2 linked regions of the Homo sapiens genome follow. The protein of the gene in region 1 interacts with the protein of each later gene in a biochemical or structural test. Each region holds a gene or a part of one and is shown in the gene's direction. Other genes may lie near its edges.

What was found. The genes of interacting proteins can lie anywhere in the genome.
Region 2: the proteins of DNM1 (region 1) and MAP3K10 form a complex in vitro, tested with the Homo sapiens proteins (one study listed by BioGRID).

Annotation. Positions count from the first base shown.
Region 1 is NC_000009.12:128,206,360-128,213,378, forward strand, and holds part of DNM1 (dynamin-1), read left to right. Parts: intron 1-7,019. UniProt on the Homo sapiens protein: Catalyzes the hydrolysis of GTP and utilizes this energy to mediate vesicle scission and participates in many forms of endocytosis, such as clathrin-mediated endocytosis or synaptic vesicle endocytosis as well as rapid endocytosis (RE).
Region 2 is NC_000019.10:40,186,746-40,194,439, forward strand, and holds the start of MAP3K10 (mitogen-activated protein kinase kinase kinase 10), read left to right. Parts: upstream 1-4,680; 5' UTR 4,681-5,286; coding exon 5,287-5,968; intron 5,969-7,694. UniProt on the Homo sapiens protein: Activates the JUN N-terminal pathway.

The DNA of each region.
Region 1 (7,019 bases):
TTCCCTTTTACAGAAGGGAAAACTGAGGCCAATTCATTCAGTCATTTAGCAAACATTTGTGGAGGGTGCACGATGTCTCAGCACTGGGGATTCTATGGTGGAAAAGACCAAGACTCTGCACTGCAGAGGGAGAAACTCAGAAGACAACTGGAAAATGTGGTGAACGTCAGGGAGGGGAGTGGGGCTGCTCTCCCCAGGGAGGTCAGAGGTCTCCAGGAGGAGGTGGCATCTGAGATGAGAACCAAGGGATGAGAAGCTGTGTAACTTGCCAGGGGCGGGAGAGTTCCAGGCCAAGGGAAAGGTGCAAAGGCCCCGGGGTAGCAAAGAATTTGGTGCCTTTGAAGAACAGAAAGGAGACCCTGTAGCTGGTATTCAGCTAGCAAGGGGGAGACAGGACCTGAGAGATAGGCAGGGGCTAGATCTACAAAGCCCTTAGGCCATGAGGAGTGAGGAGTTTGGGTTTATTTTCTCTCTTGTGGGAAGCTTTTTAGTAGTGGAGTGATGAGCTAATTCTAGCAAGGGTGTGACTTGGGGAGCGGGTGAGGGAAAAGGCAGGAGACTGGTGGGGAGGCTGCTGCAGTGGGCAGGGGGTAGTGGGGGGCCTGGACAAGGGCTTCAGCTGCAACCAGAAGGAGAATGGTGGGTGGGTTTCAGGATATATTTTAGAGGAAGTCCTGCTGGAGGATGAATGTGGAGGGTGAGGAAAGAGGAATCAATGATGACTTCTGGGACTTTGACCTGAGCTCCTGGGTGGGTGTTGGTGCCATTAACAGAGTCGGGAAGAGTAAGGAGGAGCAGACTGGGGGGATGGGGGAAGACCAGGGTTTGGTTCTGAACATATTGAGCCTGAGATGCCTGTTAGACTTCTAAGTGGAAGATGTCAGCTGGCAGTTTGGTGATGCAAGTTGAGAGCTCAGGGGGAAGACGGGCTGGAAGTAAAAATTTGGAAGTCGTTGGTGTAGAGATGGGATTTAAACCCGAGAGTAGATGAGCTCATCCTGGGGGTAAGTGTAGATGGGGGAGTGTTTGTGGACCCAGCACACACCAGCCTTTCATGAACAGATGCCTGGTGCCCTAGGCCAAAGGGGCCTCCTCGCTGTCCCTCCAGCTCCTCTTTGTCACCCCCGCCCCGCTACACCCCCCACCCCAGTGCTCCTCTAGGGCCAAGAGTGGGTTGTCCTAGGGCAGGCCAAGTCTGGTGGGAATGTGGCAGAGGGGCCGAGAGCATGGTGTGGAGTCAGACCTGCCGAGTATGAAGCTCAACTCTGCCACTTACAAGCAGAGAAACCCTGGGCATGTTCCCCAAACCCTGCCCAGCTGCTATTTCCTCATCTGTAAAATGGGGATAATAATAGCACATCCCTTGTGAGATTATGGTGAGTGTTGAAACAATCCCCAGGAAGCACTCGGGGCAGGGCCTGGCATGGAGGACGCGCTGCTTCTATCCCTGCCTGGGCGTAGACAGGCAAGCCCTCTGGGATGGCGTGGGCTGGGAGGTGCACCAGGATGGGGGCACGGGTTGGGGATCTTCTCCATCCAGGGTAGGGTAGGGGTCCTGAGGAGCGACCCTCTGCCCAGAGCCGAAGGAGCAGCCTGGGAGGAAGGGTTTTAGGTTTCCCCGTAACTCTGCCTACCCCCCACCCCCAGGCTTTCTGTCTCCCCCAATGCCCTTGTCCCTTCCTCCCCATTCTTTTTTTTCTTTTTTTTTTCTTTTTTTGAGATGGAGTCTCACTCTGTCACCCAGACTTGGAATGCAATGGCGCGATCTCAGCTCACTGCAACCTCCACCTCCCAAGTTCAAGTGATTCTCCTGCCCTAGCCTCCCAAGTAGCTGGGATTACAGGCATGTACCACCACGCCCGGCTAATTTTTGTATTTTTAATAGAGATGGAGTTTCATCATGTTGTCCAGGCTGGTCTCAACTCCTGACCTCCAGTGATCCACCCACCTCAGCCTCCTAAAGTGCTGGGATTACAAGTGTGAGCCATAGCACTCAGCTCTCTGCTCTGCATTCTATCCCAGCATGGACGTGATGCTGGTCTCTGGACTCTGAGAGCCCTTCTCTTTGTCAAACCTAGCCTTTCCCAGGGGAGACAGCCCCCTCCCCACTATTAAGCTCTGTCTCTTCCTCTGAACACACCAGGATGCATCATAGTGGTCCCATTTCTCAGATTTGGAGATGGAGGCCAAAGTCTATTAGGGGATAAATGAGACATCCTAGGCAGAGTATCGATGACCTGGATGGGGCAGAGGGAACTAATATTTCCTTGGCACTTGCTGTGTGCCAGGCCCTGAGGATACAGTTGTGAGTCAGCCAGACCCATCCTGCTTGGGGAGGCTTGCGGCTGATCGGGGCAGACAGACATGAAATCCACAAAGAGCACGTTTGTCGTGTATTTTGAAGGAGGCTGCTCCTGCGTTGCAAGGAGCCTGACATTGAGGGGAGGGGGGCTTTCTGGGCCATCAGAAGGCCTCCTGAGGAGGTAGCATTTAAGATTGGACCTGAGCAAGACTAGGACGTGGTCAAGCCAAGGTGTGGACTTCCGCAGGTGCAGGGACTGTCCTGAGCAAAGAGTTAGGGGGAAAAGAGCCCAACGGGTTTGAGAACCCGGATGAAGGATGAAGGGCAGTGTGGCTGAGTGAGGAGCAGAGGCCAGAGGTGAGACTAGGAGGGTTGGGGAGGCGGGGCTTGAGGGGCCTGTTAGGGGCCCTTTGACACCCCCCCACCCACCTGGAGAGCTGCCACACTCTGCTCCAGCCTCTGCATGCTCAGAGCACGCAGCTGCCACGTGCTAAGCACACACTGCCTGTGGGCCACATGTGGAGCACACCCCTGGGGCTGGAAACATGGAAATGCACCCATCCACAGCCAGAGGACATCCTCTCCAAACCCACACCCCACCGTGGCCCAGAGGAGCTGGGAGTGAAAGGTGACCCTGGCAGACAGCATCTGATCTCGGCGCCAGGAGAATTGAGTTTCCCAGGCCCTGGCTGGGTCAGAGGGTCGGACCCAGGGAAGGGGGTGCAGGTGGGAGAGTGGAGAGGGTGGGCAGGGCAGGAGTGGAGGAAGTGGGTCATGGACACAGTGCTGTCAGGCGTGGAGAAACGGACGCCCACATGCCATATGTCTATGTATTCCAGTTATAAATCAAGCTGAGGAATTGCTAAATGCAATACATTCTGCCCTCCCACCATAACAAACACACCTTCATCACAACCTGACCAGCTGGGTTTGAATTCAGAATTTCAGACTCCTTGGAGTTCCGTGGTGGATGTGGAGGCGTGGGGACAGGTGTCCCCTCTCCGCAGGCTGCCCCGTCATTTCCCTCTTTATCCCTCCAGGGTTCACTTGTGAACACCCCAGCCCTCATATCCCAGCTCCAGAAAGGACCCACCTTGGGCCTGGGCTGGTCCCCACTTGGGCCTGGGCGGTGGGCTTGGAACTGCTTGAGAGGGAATTCTGGGGCATCTGAGCGTAGCCTACGAGGGGAGCACAGGCTTCAGCTGGGCACCTCCCCTGGCCCCTGGGGAACTCTTTGCCCCATGGGGAGGGTGAAGCCAGAGGAGGTCCAGAGAGGGACCCCTAAGTGTAAGTCTCAGACTAAGGGCTCCATTCCCCAGGCCTAAGGGCAGTACTGATGTCTTCTATCATTCCAAGTTTTTGTTTTGTTTTGTTTTGTCTGTTTTGTTTTGTTTTGTTTTGTAAGACAGGATCTCACTCTGTCACCCAGGCTGGAGTGCAGTGGGGCGATCTTGGCTCACTGCAGCCTTGACCTCCCGGGCTCAAGCCATCCATCCTCCCACCTCAGCCTTCCGAGAAGCTGGGATGACAGGCATGTGTCACCACACCCAGCTAAGTTTTTTATTTTATTTTTTGTGGAGATGGGGTCTCACCATGTTGCCCAGGGTGGCCTCAAACTCCTGGACTCAAGTGATCCTCCCACTTTGGCCTTCCAACCAGGTTTTTATTTTATTTGTATTTATTTGGCATTATTATTATTATTATTATTATTATTATTAGAAACAGGGTCTTGCTCGGTCACCCAGGTTGGAGTGCAGTGGCACAATCTCAGCTCACTGCAACCTCCGCCTCCCAGGTTCAAGCAATTCTCCTACCTCAGCCTCCCAAGTAGCTGAGACTAACAGGCACCCGCCATCATGCCTGGCTAATTTTTGTATTTTTAGTAGAGATGGGGTTTCACCATATTGGCCAGGCTGGTCTCGAATTCCTGACCTCAGGTGATCTGCCCGCCTTGGCCTTGCAAAGTGCTGGGAATACAGGTGTGAGCCACCAGGTTTTTAGATGGCAAAAATGACACAGAGAGCGTAGGGAACCTGCCTAATGTCACACAGCAATTGAATCAGAGGCAGGCCAGGAACAGGCATGGGTCTCCTGCCTCCAGTCCACACTTTTCCATGTTTCTGTCTACCCTATTCCCCACCCCAGTCCCACCCATGTGTGCACACACCTACACACCTCAGTGTCTCCTCCTCTCCTCTTCCTGGGCGACTCTCTGGCACTCTTACCCATTCCCTGGAATGAAATCTGGCTAAGAAACAAGAATCATTTGGAGAAGTCAGCCCTGGCAACTTAGAATTACTATAAGCAACAGAAAAAAAAAAAGTAATATTGAGCTTGGAAGGTGTTCAAAATATTCTCCTGAATGGCATCTTCCCAGTGCCCTGGCCAGAGGCCCCAAGATCAACTGCCTGCCGGCTCCCCCATCCTCCCCATCTGACTTGGTCCCCATGCCCTGTGGATTCTGCCCAGTTCACTCCTGTCTACCTCAGACTCCAGCCCCTTTGTCTTAGCAGCAGAGGTAGTTTCCTCCCTTGCCCCCTAATCCATTCCCCGCCCGACAGCATGAAACTCTCTCCAGCCTCCCAATCTATCTTCCTAGCTTGAAGCCCTCTTTGGATTCCCTGCCCTCAAAACGGAACCCCACACCTGAGTTGGGCCCCTGAGGGCTGATTACCCAGTCCTGCTTCCTTTCAGCCGCTCCCTCCTGGTCTACCTGAATATATTACAGTGCGTGGGAAAAATAGGGCCGTGCCCTCTCTCTCACTCTCCTGGGGTGCTATTGCATATGCTGTTCTCTCGCCTGGAAGCCTCTTTTTTTTTTTTTTTTTTTTTTTTTTCTGTACAGACAGGGTCTTGTTATGTTACCCAGGCTGGTCTCAAACTTCTGGCCTCAAGCCAGGTCTCAAACTCCTGGCCTCAAGCTGGGGCTTGAACTCCTGGCCCCAAGCGATCCTCCCACCTCAGCCTCCCAAAGTATTGGGATTACAGGATTCCAGGTGGCTGGCCCCTGGAAAGCTCTTCACCCTGCCGTTGTCTTCCTCTTTCACTGGGTCTTTCCTCCAAGTGTCACATCAGCCAACACCTCCTCTGGGATGCCTTCTCTGATGACCCTCTCCTGCCATGACCTGGCCCTCCCTGTGTGGGGTGGGGCTTTGTTTTCTCCCAGATGGGAAGCTGTAGAGGAAGAAAGAAGCCCGTTGCCTTGGGCTCAGAGCTCCTGGCAGAGGGCGGCTCCAACCATGGTTAATATTAACAACGTATCTAGTCATGACTGTGTTATTCTTTAATCACTCTGTCTCATGTGCCTCTCTTCTTAGGTCAGGGAAAGGAGGCCACTAGCCAGGGTGGGGAGAAAAATCTCAGCGGGTGAATGCACCCTCACCCCCAACCTGGGTCCCCATTTCAAAGGAATGCAATGCTGTAGCACATAAAGCACCCAGCACATGGCACGTGCTCAGGAACTGGGACCTGCCAATGGGCACCCCCTGTTAGGTCCTTCCACAGCCAGGATCTCAGGGCATTCCCTCAGCAGCCCTAGGAGGCAGCTGCTGGCCTGTGTCCTATTTCACTGGTGGGCAAACTGAGGTTCAGAACAAGGAAATAATTTAGTGGCTGAGTTGGGGTTCCTTCTCATCAAGATGCTGGTGATAAGAAATAAGGATCCATAGCTGGGCATGGTGGTGCACACATGTAGTCCCAGCTACTTCGGAGATTGAGGTGGGAGGACTGCTTGAGCTCAGGAATTTGAGGCTGCAATGAGCTATGATCGTACCACTGCACTCCAGCCTGGGCAACACGGCAAGACCCGGCTGGAAGGAAGGAAGGAAGGAATCAAGGAAGGAAGGAAGGAAAGAAGGAGGGAAACAGAAAGAGGATCCAGATGTAGCTGCATAGTGAATAACTTTGGAAATGTCTATGATATGTTAGGTGAATAGAGAAGCTATCAAAGGGCTGATAACCCAGTGTGCATGTGAGCGCCTGAGAGGCATGTGATTTCACCTTTCTGAGTCTCAGTTTCTTCCCTGTAACATGGAGAAACTGATCACTCTGATTTCACACAGCCATGCAAGAATCGATCCAAAGGCTGTAGATTTTCTTAAACAGCTTTACTGAGGTATAATTTACATGCCATACCATTCACCCATTTTAAAGGCACAATTCAATGATCTTTGGTATATTCACAGAGTGGTGCAACCATCATCACTATCTAATTTTAGGATATTTCCGTCACCCTAAAAAGAAATCTTGTGCTGATGTAGATTTTCAAGTCCCTGGCAGAGTCCCTGGCTGACAGTCAGCAATTCATCAGTGTTTAGCCATGATGATGATGATGAATGATAAAATGTTTACAGTGGCTCCCATCAGGTGTTGGGATGACGATTGGTTTTTATTTTTTAAATATTTCACGTATTTTCTGGATCTTTTTGTTTGTTTGTTTGAGATAGAGTCTCACTCTGTCATCCAGGCTGGAGTACAGCGGCAGGATCTCAGCTCACTGCAACCTCCACCTCCCGGGTTCAAGCGATTCTCCTGCCTCAGTCTCCCGAGTAGCTGGGACTACAGGCGCACGCCACCACACCCTGCTAATTTTTGTATCTTTAGTAGAGATGGGGTTTCACCATGTTGGCCAGGCTGGTCTCAAACTCCTGACCTCAGGCGATCCACCCACCTCGGCCTCCCAAAGTGTTGGGATTACAGGAGTGAGCCACCGCACCTT
Region 2 (7,694 bases), on another chromosome or scaffold:
GTGAGCCAAGATTGTGCCACTGCACTCCAGCCTGGGCGACAGAGCGAGACTCCATCTTAAAAAAAGATTAAAAAATAAAAAGTTGACTTGATATTAGTCAAGGGATACAAAATATCAGTTATGCAAGATGAATAAGTTCTAGAGATCTAATGTACAATGACACGACTATCGTTAATAAGATTTTATTGTATACTTGAAATTTGTTATAAGGGTAGGTCTTAAGTGTTCTCACCACAAAAAAAAAAAAAAGCTCCCCAACTCATTGAATAGGGCTAGCATTCCGCCAATGTCAAAACTAGGCAAGAATAACACCAGAAAATTCCATTTATGAAAACAAATGCAGGCCAGGCACAGTGGCTCATGCCTGTAATCCCAGCACCTTGGGAGGCCAAGGCAGGTGGATTCCTTGAGGCCAGGATTTGGAGACCACTCCGGCCAACATGGCAAAACCCCATGTCTACTAAAAATGTAACAATTAGCTGGGCACAGTGGCATGCGCCTATAGTCTCAGCTCTGGAGGCTGAGGTGGGAGAATCGCTTGAACCCAGGAGGTGGGTGAGCTGAGATATCACCACTGCACTATAGCCTGGATGACACAGCAAGGCTGTCTCAAAAAAAAAAAAAAAAGAAAAGAAAAGAAAAGAAATGCAAAACAACCCTAAATAAAGTATTATTAAATCAAATCCAGCAATGGTGAAAGCAAGAAAGAGGAGATAATCAACATTAATGGATTAAAGGCAGAAAAACCATCTGATTGCATAAATAAATGCATAAAAAGCATTTGATAAAATGTAACACCTGCATTTAAAAAAGAAAGAAAGAAAGAAAGAAAGAAAAATCTCTAGCAAGTTAGGAATAGAACCTGATAAAGGACTTCTACTAGAAATCTACTGAAAGCATCATATTTAATGATGAAACCTTAGGATCATTCCCTTAAATGTCTAGGACAAGACAAGAATTGTCCATTAATACCACTGCCATTCAACATTGTATTGGAACTCCTAGCCAAAGAGGAGAGGATTAAGAAAAAAAGCATAGACATCAGATTTTTTAAAGCTGTAATTTTTTTCTTTTTTCTGGACAACAGGATCATCTAGCTAGAAAATCGAAGAGAATTATCTGTCAAGCTATTCTAGAACAAGCAAGAGTGAGTTCAACAAGGCAGCCAAATCCAAGATAATTTTTTTTCTTTTTTTTTTTGAGATGGAGTCTCACTCTGTCACCAGGCTGGAGTGCAGTGGCGCAATCTCGGCTCACTGCAACCTCTGCCACCCGGTTCAAGCGATTCCCCTGCCTCAGCCTCCCGAGCAGCTGGGATTACAGGTGACTGCCACCATGCCCTGACTAAATTTGTATTTTTAGTAGAGACAGGGTTTCACCATGTTGGCCAGGCTGGTCTTGAACTCCTGACCTTGTGATCCACCCGCCTTGGCCTCCCAAAGTGCTGGGATTACAGGCGTGAGCCACCGCACCGGGCCCAGAGACAACCTGTTCTGCAGCCCATTTGCTTCTTCCAGAGTCTCCCTCTGTCGTCCGGGCTAGAGTACACTGGCTCGATCTCGGCTCACTGCAACCTCCGCCTCCCAGGTTCAAGCGATTCTCCTGCCTCAGCCTCCTGAGTAGCTGAGATTACAGGCACCTGCCACCACGCCTGGCTAATTTTTGTATTTTTAGTAGAGATGAGGTTTCACCATGTTGTCCAGGCTGGTCTCAAACTCCTGACCTCAGGTGATTTGCCTGCCTCAGCCTCCCAAAGTGCTGCGATTACAGGTGTGTGAGCCACCGCCCCCACCCTCTATTTGCTTCTTTGAGATGAATCACCCCATAAATGATTGGTAAACAGAGTAATGATGTCAGCATAACACAAGCATGTTGGTTAACATGCAATTTTCTCCAGGAAGTTAACATTTTGAAGCAATCAGGGCCAAGCTTTCTCACAGTTAAAGGGGAAGCCTTAGTACTAAAAGAAGATCTTCAGAGGAAAAAGCTGCAAATCTACAGAAGTGTCTTCCTTTGGATCCACGGTGGCTGGTTTAGTGACTTCAAAGACCACCATATTTGTCACAGTGTTATGCCTATGGCAAATCCATGAATGCAGATGAAGAAATTGCAAATATATTTCTCCCATATTAAAATAACAGATTAATGAAAAAGATCACACCTTGGATCACATTTCGAGTTTTGATGAAAATGATCCCCATCAATAGTTAATATCTCCAACCAGCATCCCCAAAGAGGAAGCATAAGCCCCACCTTCAAGGCTGCAAAGTGCTGCTGAAAGCAAATGCTCATGGAAATTTACCTATTCTAGTGTTTCTATTAGCATCATTATTGGTTTTGTAGCACTCTGAATATAAAGTTGTATACAAGAGGCCGGGCATGGTGCCTCACACCTGTAATCCCAGCACTTTGAGAGGCCAAGGCGGGCGGATCACGAGGTCAGGAGATCGAGACTATCCTGGCCAACATGGTGAAACCCTGTCTCTACTAAAAATACAAAAATTAGCTGGGCATGGTGGCGCCCACCTGTAATTCCAACTACTCGGAAGGCTGAAGCAGGAGAATCACTTGAACCAGGGAGTCGGAGGTTGTGGTATGCCAAGACCGTGCCACTGCACTCCAGCCTGGCAACAGAGTGAGACTCCATCTCAAAAAAAAAAAAAGTTGTATACAGGTTTTTATTTTTACTTTTTTTTTTTTGAGTCAGGGTCTCGCTCTGTCTCTCAGGCTGGAGTGCAGTCAGTGCCACAATCACAGCTCACAGTAGCCTCGACCTCCTGGGCTCAGGTAATACCCCTATACCTCAGTCTCCCGAGTAGCTGGGAACACAGGTGCACACCACCACACCCGCCTAATTTTTTATTTTTTTGTAGAGACGGAGTCTCCCTATGTTGCCCAGGCTAGTCTGAAACTCCTGGACTCCAGTAATTCTCCCTCCTCGGCCTCTGAAAGTGCTGGGATTACAGGCATGAGCCACCGTGCCCAGCTAGTTGCATATATTTTGAGCAATCTGTCTCTAACTCTATTTTTTCCATGAAGTCTTGTTAATTTTAGTGCACCGTTTTGAAGAACTGAAGGTTTTTTAAGAATGCATATAGCAGGTTATAGCAGAAACACTTATACTCAGAATGAAGCTGGGGCTCTCTCTTCCAACAAGCATTTTTGATATGCTCCGAGTGTCCCTGCTAGGTAGCCAGGAGACCAGGTAACCCACTTCCCTCTGACAATGGAACAATTCCCCAAGGACCCTGAGGGGCAGTTCTCTGGAGTTTGGGCACTAGAGTCCCTCTTATTTCCTCTTCTTCTCTCCTCCCTCTAGACCCCATACCACTCAGGAGAGGCCAAGTAAAAAGACCCAGAATTTTGCCTCTTACAAGCTTAGAGATCTTGAAGAAGTCACTGAACCTCTGCGGGACCTACTTTCCTCATTCTTTAAATAGAAAGGCAGTGGGTTTTTTGTTTGTTTGTTTTTTGTTGTTTTTTTTTTTGTTGTTGTTGTTTTTGTTAATCGTGGCGATGGTTATTTATTTATTTATTTATTTTGAGACGGAGTCTTGCCCTGTCGTCCAGGCTGGAGTGCTGTGGCGTGATCTTGGCTCACTGCAACCTCCACCTCCCAGGTTCAAGCGATTCTCCTGCCTCAGCCTCCCGAGTAGCTGGGATAGATTACAGGCGCACACCACCACGCCCGGCTAATTTTTTTTTTTTTTTTTAAATAGTAGAGACGGGGGTTTCACCATGCTGGCCAGGCTGGTCACGAACTCCTGGCCTCGTGATCCGCCCGCCTTGGCCTCCCATAGCGCTGAGATTACAGGCGTGAGCCACCGCGCCCGGCCTGGTTGTTAATTTTTAAAACTGCCTTTCATTTTTGCTTTGCCATTTATAGCTCTGTAGCCTTGCACAAATGACTTCACTTCTCTATGAGTCATCTGTAAAATGGGGCTCTTTGTGAAGACTTAACGATACCACGTGTACAAAGCACTGAATACAACATGCACATTAAGCTCCCCGAAATTGAAACTCCTATAAAATAGGAATCGGGGATTCTCAAGAGCAGGAGTTCTGACTTCAGCAGAGGAACCCAGAGCTGGTGGGGAAAGCAGACGTGGCTGTGACATCCCCAGGGACACTAAACACATCCTCCCAGCCCCATCTTCCCCGCAGAGTCCCGCCACCGGCCCGACCCCTAACTTGCTCCAACCACCCGCCGACGCCCGCAGCCCGCTGTTTGGGGGCCGCCCCCTGCAGCGCCAGGTCCCCGCGCGGACTACAGTTCCCAGCGTACATCTCGGTCGGGGGGTCCGAGGGGCCGTCCTGCCTCAGGGATAAGGTCCAGGCTGCGTTCGCGGCTCCGGGCAGTCACAGTCATGCACGCAGCTCCTATTTTTCGCGTTGCTAATCGCGTCCGTTGCAGTCCAACCCATCCTGGGCCGCGGCCCCCACAGGGTCTGTGAGGAGCGCTTCCCCCCGCCCCGGGCGCCCGCTACGCCGCGTCCGAAGGAGGGGCCGAGGCCGGGCTCATCTCCCCGGGAGGACTCCTTCGGCTTCGTGGGGTGTCATGTCCATTGCGGCCCGAGGCTGGCCGCGGGGCTCTGCTGGAGGGCGCTGAGAGCCGGGCCCCGAGGCCGCACGGCCGGAGACTACAACTCCCAGGAGGCACCGCGGCGGCGGCGCCCACACGTCACTCGGGCCCCGCCGGTGGCCCGGGGAAGCAGCACGGGCGGGGGGCAGGGGCTGGGGCCGACCGGGAGGCCGGTGCCAAGGATGGGGGCCGCCCGGCTGCCCCGCGCGTGAGGAGGCCGAGGGGCGCGCCACCCCGGCCCGGGGCGGCCGCCCCAGGGGCCCCGCCACCCCCGCCCGGCCCGGCAGTCGTGGCCCGGGATGCGGAGCCGGGGGCCGCCGGTGGAGCTGCGCGGGGTGAGCGGCGCGGGGAACGGGGACTGCCTGCCGCCCTCGCCCTCGTCCCCCACCGGCGGACCCCGGCGGGCATTCGAGAGCCGCGCGGCCAGGCCCTCTTAGCCCTCTGCCGTTTGGGGGGCACGGGTGAACCTGCCGCCCCACTCCCACCCCGCCCCGCCCCGCCCGTACAGCCAAATCGGAAGGGACGAGCCTGCCCTTTGAAAGGGTTTTTTTTCTTGCTCCTGCGGAGGGCGCCCCAGCCATGGCCCTCAGGAGCTCCCTAGACCCCGCAGGGACTGCCCTCCATCCCGGCCGCCGGGGCCCGCCCTCTGCATCCCGCGGGCAGCCTGTGTGAAGCGGCCTCCCGCAGCCCCCGGCCCCTCCCCCATGGAGGAGGAGGAGGGGGCGGTGGCCAAGGAGTGGGGCACGACCCCCGCGGGGCCCGTCTGGACCGCGGTGTTCGACTACGAGGCGGCGGGCGACGAGGAGCTGACCCTGCGGAGGGGCGATCGCGTCCAGGTGCTTTCCCAAGACTGTGCGGTGTCCGGCGACGAGGGCTGGTGGACCGGGCAGCTCCCCAGCGGCCGCGTGGGCGTCTTCCCCAGCAACTACGTGGCCCCCGGCGCCCCCGCTGCACCCGCGGGCCTCCAGCTGCCCCAGGAGATCCCCTTCCACGAGCTGCAGCTAGAGGAGATCATCGGTGTGGGGGGCTTTGGCAAGGTCTATCGGGCCCTGTGGCGTGGCGAGGAGGTGGCAGTCAAGGCCGCCCGGCTGGACCCTGAGAAGGACCCGGCAGTGACAGCGGAGCAGGTGTGCCAGGAAGCCCGGCTCTTTGGAGCCCTGCAGCACCCCAACATAATTGCCCTTAGGGGCGCCTGCCTCAACCCCCCACACCTCTGCCTAGTGATGGAGTATGCCCGGGGTGGTGCACTGAGCAGGGTGCTGGCAGGTCGCCGGGTGCCACCTCACGTGCTGGTCAACTGGGCTGTGCAGGTGGCCCGGGGCATGAACTACCTACACAATGATGCCCCTGTGCCCATCATCCACCGGGACCTCAAGTCCATCAACAGTAAGTGGTGTCCTCTCCCCAAAATTCCTTCCACAGAACCTCTCAAGGCCAGGCCTAGGTGGTGGGAAACAGGGTGAGGGACACCAGATGACACTGTGCCTGGAGTGAGAAGGGGCAGCAGTATGATACCTTCAGGGTGAAGGTGAGGTAGGCCTTGCCTGCCTTAAGGGAGAAAAAGGAGGCTCAGAAAGGTTGAAGGACTTACCTGCCTCCCAGGCTGCAGAGTCACAATCGCTCAGTAAACATGTATCCATGAACACCTGCGTTCCCTGCATGAACAGGACAGATGCAGTGCCTGCCTTCAAGGTGCTTGCCATCCAGCCATGCTGCCAGAGTCCACCAGGCAGAGACAAAAAGAGCCTACCCCGTCTGGAGTCAGTGTCTCTCAACCCCAGCACTATTGGCACTTGAGGCCAGATCATTGTTGTAGGGGCTGTCCTGTAAATTGTGAGTTGCTTAGCGGCATCTTTAGCCTCTTCCCACTAGATGTCATTAGCATTCCCTGCCCCCTCTCCCCAGCTATGACAACCAAAAGTGTCTCCAGGCATTGCAAATGTCCCCTGGGGGGCAGAATCACCCCCAGTTGAGAACCATTTCCTGGAGTCTTCATAGGCCGAGCTGGCCAAGGCAAACTGGAAAAGATGAGGGAGGAATTAAATTGATGTGGCTTATATAAAAGCTTCCAGGCTGCCTGATAGGTTCTCCAAAGTTGATTGGTTGGTTGAATAAATAATGGAGCCAGGTAGAAGGGAACATTCTGCAAGACTCATTTCTAGATGGAAGAGCTTCATGTGGTGTCAACAAGTATTAATTGAGCACCTATTAAGCAGGAGCCCAGCTGGGAGTAAGACAGCCATGGTTTCTGCCCTGACAGTACTCACAGGCTAGCAATTTCATTCATTCATTCCACAGATATTTCCAGAGTGCTGTGTGCCAGACCCTGTCCCAGGGATACAGCAAGAAAAAAAAAATCTTACATTCCTGGCTCTCCCATTCGTGCTGTGCCCCATCTCACTCCCTTTCATTTCTTCATTCATTTGTTCATTCTTCCATTTGGTATTTACCAGGCCAGATCATGTGCTAAGCAAAGGCATCAGCAGTGGAGAAGGCCAGCATGTCCCCGGCCCTCACGTCACTCACAGTTAAGCCCCAAAATGTGAAGGTGCCCCCTTTGCTCTCAACACCCACATCTCATCTATTCCTGATTTCTGTCACTTCTACATCTTGAAATTTATTTTAATCCATCCCACTATTTTTAGGAATATATTGCTATTCCCCACCCATAGCAATTGTAAGCCCCTAGAATAGAGGGACTGCATCTTCCTTGCCTCCCAAGCCTGACATTTGTATATCAACAGAGAGCTTGGCTGGGCGCGGTGGCTCACGCCTGTAATCCCAGCACTTTGGGAGGCCGACGTGGGTGCATCACCCGAGGTCAGGAGTTCGAGACCAGCCTGACCAATATGGTGAAACCCCTTCTCTACTAAAAATACAAAAATTAGCTGGGCATGGTGGCATGCATCTGTAATCCCAGCTACTCAGGCTGAGGCAGAAGAATCGCTTGAAACCAGGAGGTGGAGGTTGCAGTGAGCCGAGATTGCACCACTGCACTCCAGCCTGGGTGACAGAGCAAGATTCCATCGCAAAAAAAAAAAGCTAACATGTGACCACGATGTGCCAGAGCTGGTGCTGTGTCTGGGGAACTGATGCTTATGCCCCAGCACCT